Linked DNA regions of Homo sapiens: region 2 is linked to region 1. A link means that fine-mapping ties the variant in region 1 to the expression of a gene that starts in the linked region. Tissue or cell type: blood mononuclear cells. Region 1 holds a variant in brackets; the other region holds the start of a gene. All regions are shown on one strand. Distances are from middle to middle.

Evidence for each region. PIP is the estimated chance that this variant, and not a neighbour inherited with it, causes the effect.
Region 2: it holds the start of VPS54, and the variant in region 1 is fine-mapped to the expression of VPS54 in blood mononuclear cells (TOPMed, PIP 0.98).

What each region holds. Positions count from the first base shown.
Region 1 is chr2:63,899,266-63,902,023 of GRCh38, forward strand. VPS54 (VPS54 subunit of GARP complex) reads right to left here. Exons shown (of 23, transcript NM_016516.3): 21 at 209-316. Among named protein-coding and RNA genes, the nearest start is that of UGP2, 59 kb to the left of the region's middle. The variant G/T (reference allele first, on the strand shown) is at 1,623.
Region 2 is chr2:64,018,382-64,020,881 of GRCh38, forward strand. It overlaps VPS54 (VPS54 subunit of GARP complex), which reads right to left and starts at 1,047. Exons shown (of 23, transcript NM_016516.3): 1 at 557-1,047. RefSeq lists an enhancer at 231-300 and a silencer at 461-1,170.

The DNA of each region.
Region 1 (2,758 bases):
AGCTCTAGCTCTGGTCTGTCACTGCAAGGAGCACTTAGAAATTAGAAATTTTTATCCATGTTCTACCAGTCAATATAACAATGTAAAAAAATGATAATCATATTGGAACATGAACAGCTTAACTGCCAAAAGCATGTAAAAACACCCCAATTCTGTACAGATATTGTATGTTATATATACATGAATAGTTTTAGGAATTACTTCTCACCTGTGTTTGTTCTTCTGGAAGGAGATCAAATATAGCTTCGTGCATTTTTGTCATTTGCTTACAAATATTCCTGAAACAGGCAGAAGGAACAGGAGCCTTCACTTCATACTGGTAGGAAAAAATAATGAGAATTATGTTCATGTCCTCTGAATTGCATAATGTCTCCACCATTCCCTGAGACATATATTTACTGTCCCTCCACATATCCAATTCTGGCATAGTACTTAAGCTTACACTTTTCAACTGTGATCTGCGCTACTCATACAAATCTTGAGAACTTTTCATTCAACATCTTAATTCACTTTGAAGGAACTAAAATAGCTCAGTGACTAAGAACAAAGCCTGCTTCCAATCTTAGAACAGACTGCTGGGTTCAGATCCCAGCTCCTCCCATTCTAAGCTAGGTGATGTTGGGCAAGTTATTTAATTTATCTATCCCAAAGGGCTGCTGTGAGGATTAAAAAAGAGGACTCATAAGAAAGCAAGACAGTGCTTGATACAAAGTAAGTACTCAAAAAATTGTTAGCTACTAATCTGGCTCAATATACAATATAGCCACTCCAAATAAACAGATTACGTTTTAAACAATTTAAAAATTAGCTGGGGCATGGTGGCAGGCACCTGCAATCCCAGCTACTCAGGAGGCTGAGACAGGAGAATTGCTTGGACCTGGGAGGTGCAGGTTGCAGTGAGCCAAGATCGCACCACTGCACTCCAGCCTGGGCGACAAGAGTGAAACTCTGTCTCAAAAAAAAAAAAAAAAAAAAAAAAGAATGTGTCAGTATGATCGTATCTGAAATCAACAGAAAAATCTGGCAGAATAAATATGTTTTTTATTTTGTAGGTGGGTCAATATAGTAATATTTTACCCTAACATTAAAAGGAGGATTTTTTTCAGCAATGTTCTGTGCTAAAAATTTAAACTTAGGTAAATTCATTTTACTATTCTTACATATGAAACAATATGGTAGTATGACTTTAAAAGCCATCTTTTAGCTTATATTTTAGAATTCACACAGCTGAAGTTATATACCGTTTTATTTATAAGACAAATTTGGGCTAAATACTATATCTCCCTTTGGGGAGATAACTGTCTAAAAGCTGGTTGGTGTTCCAAAAAGTGGACAAGGAACGCTATAGGAACTCAAGTGAAGGATATTTACATAATGATGTCTAATGGCTTCCCGAGCTGCCCACCTGAGGTGTTCAGTCTTCAAAGGGAAAATAAACAGGTGAAAATATTCCAGGTAGAGGACAGGCCATATCATCTCAAATCTGGTTTTTTTTGTTTGTTTTTTTTGATTTTTTGAGACAGAGTCTCACTCTGATGACAAGCTGGAGTGCAGTGGTGCAATCTCAGCTCATTGCAACCTCTGCCTCCCAGGTTCAAGTGATTCTCCTGCCTCAGCCTCCC[G/T]AGTAGCTGGGACTACAGGTACTTGCCACCCCGCCCAGGTAATTTTTTGTTTTTAGTAGAGACAGGGTTTCACCATGTTGGCCAGGATGGTCTTGATCTCCTGACCTCGTGATCCACCAGCCTCGGCCTCCCAAAGTGCTGGGATTACAGGCGTGTGCCACCACGTCCGACCTCAAATCCGTTTTATACACTATCTGATTAATACTTCTAAAGTACCATTCTAATCGTATGATTAATTCATTAAAAAACTTTTCGGTTCTACTTTTATTTAAAATTTAGAAAGCTGCAATAGAACATTGCTACTACCTTAACAATACAAAAAACAGATAATCTGTAAGACCATACATCAGAGAACAGAGATCAGGGGAACTAATTCCAAAGACTGAAAAGGCCCTCTGAGGAGAGGTGATACACAGGAACTGTCTCACTTTTGGCAGAGCATAAAAAGAAGAGGTAACCACAAGAGAAGCAAGTAAGATGAAAATAAGTAAAATTTTAACAAATTCTTAAAGGCCAAACGTGGGCTAGGATATATTTAGGATAACTGAAAACCCTAGCCATAAGGAGAGTCTGCACTCATGCACAAGTTTTACTTCACGGCCTCCAGGAGGTACTCAGAAGAAACAGGAGGATCAAAGGGAGAAGATCATATAGATCCACTCCCAGTAGCACAGGTATTCAGGAGGTGATTAGTTGCCACAAGGAAATAGAAACAAATGCCATCATCCATTTCCCCCAAACCCTATTCTCATACAAAGTAAAAGGCCTAAGTCACTGAGAAGGGGCACCAAACTCTCACCACTGGGGTCACGGTGTGAAGCCAGGAACAAAACATGCCTGCTCCTGGGCCGGGCATGGTGGCTCATGCCTGTAATTCCAGCACTTTGGGAGACCAAGGAGGGTGGATCACCTGAGGTCAGGAGTTTGAGACCAGCCTGGCCAACATGGTAAAACCCTGTCTCTACTAAAAATACAAAATTAGCTGGGCATGGTGGTGCATGCCTGTAATCCTAGCTACTTGGAAGGCTGAGGCAGCAGAATTGCTTGAACCCGGGAGGCAGAAGTTGCAGTGAGCTGAGATCACACCATTGCACTCCAGCCTGGGAGACAAGAGCAAAACTCCGTCTCAAAATAAA
Region 2 (2,500 bases), 120 kb after region 1:
CGGCAGAGAGGGCCTGCCCTTTCTGTCTATGCAGAGATGGAAGGAGGCAGAACTGAAGAAAATTATTGCACAAATTATTTCAAGCTACATTGCCAAAATGCAAAATACTGAGTAACTCTTTGGGTTAGCCTTCCCCGGAGAGAAAAACAAACAAATGTTTTAACGATTCCAGTAGAATCCAATAGGACTAAGGGCCTGGCTGGAAAAAGAAAAGGAAAGTTTGGGGGCAGCGTCTAAGGGGGTGATGGAAGTTCCAGAGCTGGGATCCCGGAAAGATAAGAGAGGGGCAAGAGCGGCGTTTGCGGTCGCTGACAGGAGGCAGGGAACACAGCTGCCAGCCCCGATCCCGGAGGGAGAGTGAAAAGGAAAAAAAAAAAAAAAAAAGGAAGTGGCGGAGAGGAGCATGGAAGCTTCAGTGCCGGTCAGCTGTGACCGAAACTCGGTCCGTTTGGGGCTGGGGAGGAGAGCCGAGGGGGTGGGGTCTCGGTCCCTCTCTCCGCTGTAGGTCGGGGTGAGAGTGGGCTGAGACGCGCGGGGGGCCGCGGGGCACACCTACCTGCGGGTCCCGGGGCAGCCGCCCTGAGCGAGGCCTAGTGCATCGCCGCCGCCTCCAGCCCTCCACGTCGCACCGAGGCTGCTGCTCCACGGCCGCCGCCGCCCGGCGCCCGGCCGGGCCCGAGCCCGGGTTCCCGCCCCCGCCCCGCGCCCGCTGGCCAGTCGGCCCGGGGAGCACAGGGCCGCCCTCTCGAGCCCAGCTTCACTCAGGGGTGAGAGGTGGCAGCGGCGGCTCCCTCACGTCTCTCCCGGGTGTCCTGTCAGCCAGCAGTTTCCCCCGGGTCCGCAGCGCCGCCTCCGCCGCTGCTGCCACCGCCTCTCCCACATCCCCGGCCTCCAGGGGAGCCGCCGCCGCCGCGCCACGACCACTGCCTCTAGCGCTTCTGCTCCCGACTCCACTGCTTTCCCTCACCCCGCCGGCCCAGCCGGCTCGGCCCGGTCGGGTGCGGGGAGACAGCGCCGGAGGCCGCCGCAGCCCCCAGCCCACAATCCACCGCGCGGCTCCGCCGGGGCGGGAGGGCCGCGGCCCGGGCCGGGGGGAGCGCCCGCCGCCTGGGGAAAGCGGCCTTGGCGCAGGCCGGCGTGCCCGTCGCAGGCGCAGCCAGAGTTCTCTCGGGGCGGGGAATACACCGCGTGGCTCCCCTGCGCCTCCTCTAATAGTCCTACACGCAGACAAATCCACGCTGAATTCCACTTTCCCCACCACCCTTCCCCCCAACTCCCAGTTTTCAGGAACACCCAGAAAACCTCCTGCCGCCTTCCCCGGGACTGGGACGCGACCCCTCCAGCGTAGCCCTCGCCACCCCCAAGACCAACCGACTCGAAACATCCCTAAATCACCCGGGACCTATTAAAGCAAATACTTCCACGAGATTCCTCCTCTCCCCCACCCCCTCGAAGTAAATGCTTTTCAGCTGTTCCCTAGTAAATGCCCTTCCAAAGGTTAAAGGTCACCCCTCCGCAACAACCCAGTTCTCTCTATTGAGGCCTTTTCCCCATCCAGTCCTCCCCTCCAAGTCTTCCCCAAGTTCCAGGCCTTCCTCCCAGACACTGTAATCAGTTATTCCTGTTACTTGACTGAGATACTTGGAGTGTGTATGATAATTAATACCTTCTAATTCTGACTTCAGCCTGGTTTCACAGGACTTGCAACTTTAAACCAATAAAACACAGTCCACAAGAAAGGGAAGGTCTTAGTATATAAATATAAAGACACACACACACACACACACACACATATATTTTAGGAAGAAAAAGATCCTCAATCCTTTGAGTGCTTGTGACTTAATTTTGGGAAGATTTTATTCAATGTTGAAATTCTTGCCTAAAAATAAATTTCAAGCATTTATAAGACATAGTATGTTTTAACAAATCAAAAGTGAAAATGTAACTCTTATAGTTGGGGGGTTGAAAAAAATGTTGATCCAAGTTTCACTTCTAAGAAGTCACTTTGAAAACTGCAAACATAACTTTTATGAAATAATATTTTCCCCACCAAAGAGCTAAAGTTGGGGAAAGAGGACAAAAAGTAAGGAAGCATCAAAAATAGTTGAGAGAAAACTCTTACATTATATTTTTCTAAGTTCAATCCTCTAAAATTATGTAAGAAACAAAGTGAGAAAATCATTCCCCAATATGAAATAAATTTAACTGTAAAAGAGTGAAGTCCTCTTAAATCCCTGATCACTTATAAAACCAGATGAGTTTACATAGAAGCAGAGTAGAATGGTGGTTACCAAAGACTGGGGGGTAAAGGGTGATGAGGAAAGGGGAAATGTGAGTCAAAGGGTATAAAGTTTCAGGTAGGAGGAATAAATTTTAGTGATCTATTGCACAGCACGATGACCACAGTTAATAACAATGTATTTAATATTCCAGAATAGCTAAAAGAGTACTTTCTTTGTTTTGTTTTGTTGAGACTGTGTCTGGCTCTGTTGCCCAGGCC